Linked DNA regions of Homo sapiens: region 1 is linked to region 2. Evidence: fine-mapped expression QTL. Tissue or cell type: blood mononuclear cells. Region 2 holds a variant in brackets; the other region holds the start of a gene. All regions are shown on one strand. Distances are from middle to middle.

Region 1 (5,152 bases), 31 kb before region 2:
CCCTTGACTCTACTGAGTACCCACTTGCTCCCTTCCCTACTCCCTCATTCTCCCTTTAAAACATCCAATCACTGCTGTACAAATCAAGGTTGAATTCCTTTCACATTGGACTATTTTCCCTATTGCAGTAGTAAATTATGGATAAAAATGTGTCCCTACTGTCAGGGTTTGTTATCTTTGACAACAAAAATAAACATATAACTGCAAGTTATAATGAGTGATATGTAGTGTTAAAATAATTAAATTGGAGGCCATTAGACTGAAGTCGCTCTAATGCACTGAGTTCCTACATGAGGAAACTGAAACTTAAAACGGAATCACAAGTGGCCAACTAGTCATCAGTTATATCGTCTTGAACTTCCCACAAGAACAGTCCAAATAAGGCAACTGCTCAAACTTTAACCAGTCAAATAATTTCTTTGCTGTGCTCTGCATTTACTCTCTGAAAGCTTTCAACTACCTCTGGGGGAGCCCCAAACCACTTATGATTTGGAGCTGCCTAATTCATGAATTGCTGTCTGTTCAAATAAGCTCTTTAAAATTTTAATGTGCCAAAGTTTACCTTTTAACAGATAGGAATAGTACAGGGTGCACTGAGGACATATAATGAGGTGGGGGGCCAGAAGGAGTTGGAGCACTAATCTAGTATGGACTGGCAGAGAAGACCTCTCTAATAAAAGACATTTGGGTTAAGACCTGAATGATGAACAGGACTTTGGACAGTGAAAAGCAGAGGGACAAAGATTCCAGGAAGAGAGAATTGCAGTGAAAAGGACTAGAGACAGAAAGGAACTTGAAACACAAGTAGTCTTACAATAAACTTAAAATTTGACATAACCTAATTACTAACCAAATTACAACTTGATATAACCTAATTCCAATTTGATATAACCTTAAAAGCAACAGAACCTAATACATAATGATCCAAAGTCAAATAAGATATGGTGCCTACTCTAAGGAAGCTCAGAGGCAAATAAGTGAGATGTATTCCTATTCTCTATTCCTTTTTCATCATGAAAAAGAAATGGGGACAGGGATCAATACTTACTACCTAAATGAGCTTAAGCAAATTATTTAATCTCTTTAAAACTTGGATAATAGTATCTGTCCTGCCAATTTCAACTGTTAATATCTGTCAGGGTCCTTAAGTGCAAGGAACAGAAATCATCTATAAATGATATAAAAGCTGAAAATGAATTTATTAAAGGACATTAAGCAGCTCACAGACTCTCCCAGAAGCTGAAGAAACAAGCTAGAGGTTCTCCTCCCAATAAAGCCTCTGAGTACCTAACACTGCAGCTTGCAACAACACACTGATGCTGGACACTGGTTGCTGGTGATAGAACATTGCAGTCTCGGAAACGATGTAGTTACTGCGGCTGTCACCCTTACTTCAACAGACTCTCTGAAGTCCTGCTTCTGGTTGTCATTCAAGTTTGAGTTGAGTCCACCAAATTAGATTGGAGAGTCTAGCAAGCAATAATACTCATGTCCCAGTAATAAGGAAGACTAGGAAAGCCAGTATCTGTCACTTTCAGTTCCTGTAAGGGTGTTGGGGGGCAGGGTAAGGGAGAAACTCTGCCAAAAGGATGACAAATGGCCACTGCAAATAGGGTGAGCTCAAATGAGATAATTACATGAAAATGTTTCACAAACTAAGGGAGAATTCAGCCACATAACATTATCTCATTTTGTGTTGTATTGATTTTTAACTCCTCGAAGGCAGGCAAGTTGGAAATAATGTGTAAAATAATGTTAAAATCCCAATACATATGCAATCACATTTAAGCTGTTATCAATGAAGATTGGAAGGAAACATACAGTAAAAGTTATTTTATTAGAGAAGTGGGATTTAAGGTGAAGTAGTTCTTAAATTAAAAAAAAAAAAAAAAAGGACACTTTCCATTGAATTCACAGTCTTCCCCACAAACTTGGATCCAAATTCTAATGAAAGGAAGCTTAAAGACGCAAAGCTTCTGGTGAAAGCAGGAACGGAACAGTTGGTGCCAGAATCGCATCCATACTTCATGATGCGTTGTGTACGCTATGCCGTCCTAATAGGAAGGAAAACTACCACAAATTAGGAGTTTAGAAAATTGCACAATGCTGCCTACCACTTAACTTCAAATGTAACCTGTTAACAACGTTAGCCGACGTGAGGTTACCTAGGGACATAGCAAAACTCGCTAGAGTTACTTCAAGTAAGGCACACGGAGGTTGCTCTGATTATCAAGAAAACCAAACGTTCACATAAAATGTTTGTCTTCCAGCCGCCCCGCTGTTTTCCACTTTTTCCAAAAAGCACTGAAGCGTGGTGAAGAAACAAACATATCCTCAATTCTCGCGAGAGCTCCGTGTGTAACCAAGGGCTGAGGCGGAGGATTGGTCACTCAGGATGAGGAGCCTCCGCTATCCCGCCCCCGTTGCCGGGATACGCCGCGGCGCACGGCAGTTAGTGGGTAGGCCTGAGAGCCGAGGAAAACTGAGCGTGGGCCTCAGAAAGAAGTTAAGGCACCCGCGAGCCGGGCAACTGCCCTCCTTCCGCGCCGGCGGAGGTGAGAATCCCCGGGTCCCATCTCTTCCTCCCTCCCTCCCACGTCTGTTCTCTTGCCTTGGAGATGCTGATCCGCTCCAAACAAAACAAATTCAAACTCGGTCTTAGCTAACTGTTACCGTCGGGCCTGTAGCCAGGCCAGGCATGTACCAATTCTAGTCGAGCGAAGGTTGCGAACAGACCTCCTCCAACAGCCCGACCCCTCCCCGACCCCCCGCAGGAGACCCGCCAAGCACAGAGCAGAGGGAAGGACCGCGATGGGCTGAAGGATTTTAGTCAAAGCAATACATTTCTGCCTCTTACAGTGGAAGGGACTTATTTCTGTCTGTTGATCACAGTGCGGGCAGTTAGCAACTTTCCACTTATTCACCTGTGTGAGAATGGTTGGCTTAGGGAGGATAACGATAGTAATAATAATTAGAAGCAGATGTTTTAAATGTAATACTTATCGTCTTCACAACAGCCCTGCAAGGTAGATGTCACCCTTCTGTTTTACAGAAGATGAAATCCTGAGGGGTTAATTAAGGTGGCAAGATTATGCAGCCGCTAACTTTGTCAGCACTAGTTTGTATCGCTAATCATTCTGGATCCAAAGGCCAGGCTGCCTCTCTGTGTGAATAATTGGAAATTGTGTGACTCTTTGATTGAATAACCCCGAAGTTAGTGGTATATTTGTTGCTAATGCCCGCCTCTTAATCCCACTGGTAATAATATAATGGTAAGCTTTTTTTCACCACAGTAAAACGGTGGCAAAGAAAATTGGGTGAAATTTTTTATGTTGTACATTTTCTCAAAGTTAGCAGGAAACCTAGAGTAATATCTTTTCCACTGGAAAGAGATGTTTATTGTACTCGTTTTCTTCTGGAAAAACCATTTTGATCATACACCGTCTTCCTTTTCAAAGAGTCATTTCATGAAATTCCTTTTTCCATTTGAAATTCTTTTGCTTTGTACATAGAGTTCAAAATGGCAAGGAATTAGAATCAGGGAGCTAGTGGGGTCAGGAAGATTGATGTGAACATATTCAAATGAGATATCTGAATGGAAATTTCAGATAAACAATTGAAAACTCAAAATTGGTGCCCAGTTGAAAGGGCAGAACTGTAGACATTGATTAGTGAGCCGTACACATAGTTGGAGTTATAAAGATGCATGACTGTAGAAAGGATAGAAGCAGTCCAAGGACTGATTACGAGTAATGCTAAGAAAAGTCAGAAAAGTAGTACTGGACATAGAGTGTAGAAACAGAGAAATCATTTTAGTCCAACACACGCTTTGTTTGCCTTTTTTTTTTTTGAGACGGAGTCTTGCTCAGTCGCCCAGGCTGGAGTGCAGTGGCGCGATCTCGGCTCACTGCAAGCTCCGCCTCCTGGGACTACGCCCGCCACCACGCCCGGATAATTTTTTTTTTGTATTTTTAGTAGAGATAGGGTTTCACTATGTTAGCCAGGATGGTCTCCATCTCCTGATCTCGTGATCCACCCGCCTCGGCCTCCCAAAGTTCTGGGATTACAGGCGTGAGCCACCGCTCCCGGTCGCTTTGTTTGCTTTTTAACAATTTAGTAAATTTTTGTAATTGGCAATACCTTTATGTACGAGGAAATTTAAAAGATACAAGAGAGAACAAAGTTTTTGCTTATCACTGAGACAGATTTTGGGGATATAAAGATGATTAAGATTCAGCTCTTGCCATAAAGGGTGAGAAATACTTAAGCAGATCATTTCAAGTGGTGTGATAGGTTCTGGAATAAAGTAATACACAGGATGCATGGTAGCATGTAGAACAGGCCTATACACTGAAATTGAAGAAGACGAAGATTCCAAGACCAGTTATGGACTGGTCATGGAAGGATTCCCAGAGAAAGTAATAGGCAAAATGTGTGTTAGGCAAGGGGACCACTTAAGAGGCTGGTATAATAGTCCACCTGAGTCAGTGATGCCCTGAATTGGCCAGTGCTGTAGGAATAGAGAGTAAAGTACCTGTTAAACACTTAGGAACAAAATCAGTAGAACTAAACAAAACAAACTCAGTAGAACTATGTGACCAGCCATGGGAGTAAGGGAGAGGAAGATGTCAAGGACTAAATTTCTTACTTGTGTGACTAGGAGGTGACACCAAGAGGAAGGACAAATTTTGAGCAGATGATAATGAGTTTGGATTACATATGTTTATTTTGAAATATTTAGACATCTAAGTGGAGATGTTATTATTTGGATATAAACACCGCAAGCTGAGTGCTAAAATAAGGAAGTTGTGTGGAATCAGTTTATTAATTGTTAAAACCCTGAGTGTGGATAAGGGGGCCCAAGGGGAGTTTAGAGAGAGAAAAGAAAAAGATGGTGGATGGTATCTTAGAAAATGCTCTATATAAGGACAGATCAAGGAGACAGAAAAAAGAACCAGAAGAGAGGGAAGTGTCATGGAGATGTTTCATATAAATGTGGACACCAGTAAAGTAGGATGACATTTACAGCACTGGCAATATTGGCAGGGGTCATTTGAATCAAACGGTAGCAATCCAGGAGATACTGGGAAATGAAGCAGTAGAAAATAGTGGATATAAGCTATTCTTTTTGTTGTTGTTGTTGTTGTTGTTG
Region 2 (5,152 bases):
CCTAGGTGATTAAATAATCTGCACAACAAACCCCCATGACAGTTTATCTGTAAAACAAACCTGCACATGTACCCCTGAACCTAAAATAAAAATTTCAAAAATTTCAAAAACAATAAAACATTTGATGAAAAAATATATTTATTAATTTATTATTTAAAATACCAAATAGTACATGAATACATACTTATTGGGAAAGATGAAACCATAAAAATTACAACAAATAAAGTATCCCTTTACTTTCTGCTTCATTTCCCTCCCCAGAAATAACTTGGCTTAACAGATTAATATATATTCTTCCATTGTTTTTTGTAAAATACGTTTACTGACACATACACAAATGCACACATGCTTTTCTCCCTAAAATATGTTAAAATAATAATTTAAATAATTTTAAAAGTGGCTAAAATGTATTGGTCCTATCAGTGATCATTGCTTTAAAAACACATTTTTTATCAAGTGTTGTCATCTTGAAAATTTTGAAATTTAATTATTAAACATACAGATTTCCACCATCTTGATGTTTTACTCGAAATATTGTGTACATTGTCAAAATAGAGTATATAACATGATATAGTTCCACTAAAGATGCTTCTACCTGTGGACTTTCAGAAGAAACAGTCCCCCTGGCAATATTGATAACTGCTCAGTCCTTGGGTGATATTGGCCCCATGAAAATTTCTAGTGTCAGAATTTTCTTTTTTCTAACTCTTTAGTTGCTTTAGGAGCAGTGATGTCTGGATTTAATGAAAAAGTCAAATTTTTATCTCACTACCCTTATTAAGAAATAGTGTTACAAGAAATAAACATTCTATCATAATGGTTAGGATAAGATAAGTTATGATATACCTACTTGATAGTGTTACCTTGTGCTTATCAAAAATTTTGCTAATTATAGTATAACTTTTTATTTTTGTTTTTGTTGTTGTTACTGGTGGTGGTGGTGGGTTTTGTTTTTTGTTTTTTTGTTGTTTTTTTTTTTCAAGACAGTCTTGCTCTGTTGCCCAAGCTGGAATGCAGTGGCTCAATCATGGCTCGCTGCAGCCTAGACTTTCTGAGCTCAATTGATCCTCCCACCTAAGCCTCCCAAGCAGCTGGGACTACAGGCACATGCCATCACACCAGGCTAATTTTTTGTATTTTTTGTTGAGATGAGATTTGGCCTTGTTGCCCATACTGGTCTCAAACTCATGGGCTCAAGTGATCTGCCCACCTTGGTCTCCCAAAGTGCTGGGATTACAGGCTTGAGTCATTGTGCCTGGACTATTTTTATTTTTTAATTTTTTTAGAGATAGGGTCTTGCTCTGTTGCTCTGGCTGAAGTGCAGTAGCATGATTGTAGTTCACTGCAGCCTCAAACTCCTGGGCACAAGTGGTCTTCCTGCATCAGCCTCCCAAGTAGCTGGGACTACAGGTGCATGCCAGCATGCCTGGCTAATTTTTAAATTTTTTGGAGAGATGGGGACTTGCTGTGTTGCCCACAATGGTCTTGAACTCCTGGGCTCAAGTGATCCTCCTGCTTCAGCTTCCCAAAGTGCTGGGATTATAAGCATGAGCCATTGCACCCAGCCCTCTTATAATTCTTAAATTTCCTGGACTACACAATTCATCACAAACATTTTGTAGAGCCCATTATTCACTGGGATTTTCTTTAGTAAATGATGTTCTGTTTTAAATGTGAGCAAAATAGTTTTTTTTTGTTTTTTTGTTCTTCTTGAGATGGAGTCTCGCTCTGTCATCCAGGCCGGAGTGCAGTGGCGTGATCTTGGCTCACTGTAACCTCCGCCTCTTGGGTTCAAGTGATTATCCTGCTTCAGCCTCCTGAGTAGCTGGGATTACAGGCGCTTGCCACCAGCTGGGATTACAGGTGCGGTCCTGAGTAGCTGGGATTACAGGTGCCTGGGTAATATTTGTATTTTTAGTAGAGAAGGGGTTTCACCATGTTGGCCAGGCTGATCTCAAACTCCTGACCTCGTGATCCACCCGCCTCAGCCTCCCAAAGTGTGGGGATTGCAGGCATGAGCCACCGCGCCCGGCCGAGAAAAGTAGTTTTTAAAGGTATGAAATGACATGAGATGAAAGGGAGTTTTAGTTATGCTGGAACAAATTAGGCATATTCATATAAAAATACTACCATATAAAATATGCTATTTATAGATTTAATGAGCTAATATCTGATACAGAGCAGTTAGCTGTGTATCTGACATATAGTTAGCACTCAATAAATGTTAGGCCTTATTAGCACTTATTATTTATATCATAAATGAAAAATGTGATATACCTTACACCCAAATAGTTTGCTTTTAGTAGACCTTCTGTTCACATTCTGGCTCTATCGCTTGCTAAATTTCTTTTTCTGTAAAATGTGTACAATCATATCTACTTCATACAGTAATTGTAAAAATTGAGTTAACACATATGTAATAGTGTTTGACACTAGGTAAATATCCTATGTTGACAACTGATATCCTTGCCTAACTTTTTGAAGTAGACTTACTACTGTTCCATCTGTGCAAGCCCTGTTGATTTTTTTTTAATTATTAGAAGATAAAGAATATCTTTTTATGTTTTTACTAGTGTAAATTTGTTTTTTGTTGTTGTTGTTGTTGTTGTTTTTTGAGACGGAATTTCACTTTTGTTGCCCAGGCTGGAGTGCAGTGGTGCCATCTCGGCTCACCGCAACCTCTGCTTCCCGGGTTCAAGCGATTCTCCTGCCTCAGTCTCTCTAGTAGCTGGGATTACAGGCATGTGCCACCACACCCGGCTAATTTTGTATTTTTAGTAGAGACAGGGTTTCTCCATGTTGGTCAGGCTGTTCTTGAACTCCTGACCTCAGGTGATCCGCCCGCGTCAGCCTCCCAAAGTGCTGGGATTACAGGCCTGAGCCACCGAGCCCGGCTTACTAGTGTAAATTTGTAAATCTACTAACATTCCTCTCTCCTTGGGGATGTTGGCAGGGGAAGAGAGGGTGATAGATCTTTCCAAAACTCTCGTCTGTTCCAAACCCTTATTTATAAGCTCAGCCATCTTTTCAGAGCAGGCAAAGCTCCACAAGATATAATATTCAGGAAGAGTTGTTTATTACTGCTCATTTATCCATGTTAAAAATGTGATTTGTTTATTGGCCAGGTGCATAATATATGCTTACTTAGGTAGCTCAATATTTGTTTTTATCTTAAAATAGAAAATATTCAAAAGTATTAATACTTAAGTTACTACTCATTATTTGTAAGACTGAATACCTATATTATTAATTATAGAGAACA[T/A]GTGTAAAGACTAACAAAATGGTGTTTGTTTGTTTGTATTTTTGTTTTTAGTTGGTAGATAAACTTAATACCAACACTGAAATGGAAGAAGTAATGAATGATTACAATATGGTAAGAAAATTTATAAAAGCAAATTGATCTATGTAAGTCATATCCTACAAAACAAAGCATTTATATCTAGAAATAGTTTGATAAAACCTTAAGTGCTATAGAGGTGAATATTACTCTGATTGTAAATACCACTATTAGGTATTCCTTGAGCTCCCTTAGTTGCTCTTTTAAATTTTCTTCCTGTTGATTGGCTTTCCTAAGTGGGTGTTTAGTGACTGTCTACTGTGTTTGAACTGGTGTCACGTGCAACATTAGTTAGGGAGTGCCATCTCCATTTCCTTATATATATTAGTTTACAGTATTTCTGGCTTAGTTTAAGCACAAATGTTGATGAATACTCAATGTGACAAATGATAACTTTACATAGTTTTTGTCACCAGTGGAGAAAAATGAATAGATATGACTCCAGACATAAAATATTAATTTTTGATTGGTAAATGAGAATCTGTGTTTAACATGGACATAACACTGGGGACTCCAAAAAGGGGGATGGTAGGAGGGCAATAAGGGTGGAAAAATTACCTAGCAGGTACAGTGTTCATTATTTGGGTGATGGGTTCACTAGAAGCCCAAACCTTACCGTTATACAATATATCCATGCAACAAACCTGCACATGTACCTCTGATTCTAAAATAAAAACAAATTTGTATTCAATGTTCTTAGATTAATTGTTTGGTAGAAAACAATAAAATATGTTAATAGCTAGCTTATTTTGATTATAAGCATTTGGATGAAAATAACATACAATTTATAATTTATATAGTTTATAATTTATTTACATGAGTAAAGACTGTTCTATGAAGACATAGGATTGATAAAATGACTCTTCTAAATTTGGGGTTCTCAAACCATGATAATTTAGTTACTTTTAGCTTTAGAACACAAGAGAATTCACTAATTAAGAATCTTATTTCAATGCCAGATATAAAAAGTAAAAACCTTATGTGTTTTGTCAGTTGTTTGGGATGGGGGGTCTGTTTTCTAGGCTGGGTGTGCACAGGTAGAGTTAATTAGGTGTACTCAGATAATATCCTGAATGGTTCAGGAATAAAACTTGTGGTGGTTCTAAATTTAACATATTACTAATCAAATATTTATTGAACACTCAATATATTCTTTGAATGCTGTTTACATAAATTGAATTTACATTGAATTATTTGACAGATCACTGAAGAACAATGAATATTTTTGGTATAAGATTACAATGCTTCTTAAAAAGACTTTTTAAAAATCTGATATTGTTTGTTAAATGAGGCAATTACTTTATTTTTCTTCTTAAACTTTGTATGTGGCACTAGGATAATTATAGTAATTTCTCATTTAGTTCCTAGCCAAAATAACCTACAAAGAAAAAATTTGGTTTAATATTTATTTCTTACTAACTTATGTGTTAACTTTATTCAGCTTAAAGCTCAAAATGATCGAGAAACACAAAGTTTGGATGTCATATTTACTGAAAGACAAGCGTAAGTATAGCTAATTTAAAAATTAGATTCATAAGTAAGCTTTATTAGGTAGTTTAAGTTGTGATCCAGTTATTTCCTTGTAAATTTTCTTAACAATTTCCCCATTGCCTTTTTCATTTAAAAATATTTACAACACAAATTTTGTTGCTTATACTTGTTATCTTCATTTACCATTAAATACCTAAATTCTGTATAAAGACTATTGCTACATAGCTTATATAAATAGGATTTATGCTGCTAGCAGCTGAACACTTATGATGGATAAGAACATCTTTATATCTACTATTTTTGGTTTTAACCTGGGCTTTTAAC

What was found. PIP is the estimated chance that this variant, and not a neighbour inherited with it, causes the effect.
Region 1: IFT74 starts here. The variant in region 2 is fine-mapped to the expression of IFT74 in blood mononuclear cells (TOPMed, PIP 0.97).

Annotation. Positions count from the first base shown.
Region 1 is chr9:26,953,962-26,959,113 of GRCh38, forward strand. IFT74 (intraflagellar transport 74) reads left to right here and starts at 2,451. Exons shown (of 20, transcript NM_025103.4): 1 at 2,451-2,555. It overlaps IFT74-AS1 (IFT74 antisense RNA 1), which reads right to left and starts at 2,346. Exons shown (of 2, transcript NR_121605.1): 1 at 2,166-2,346; 2 at 1,819-2,054. RefSeq lists enhancers at 1,663-2,398, 2,399-3,133 and a silencer at 3,730-4,024.
Region 2 is chr9:26,985,356-26,990,507 of GRCh38, forward strand. IFT74 (intraflagellar transport 74) reads left to right here. Exons shown (of 20, transcript NM_025103.4): 7 at 3,314-3,373; 8 at 4,779-4,840. Among named protein-coding and RNA genes, the nearest start is that of LRRC19, 18 kb to the right of the region's middle. The variant T/A (reference allele first, on the strand shown) is at 3,263.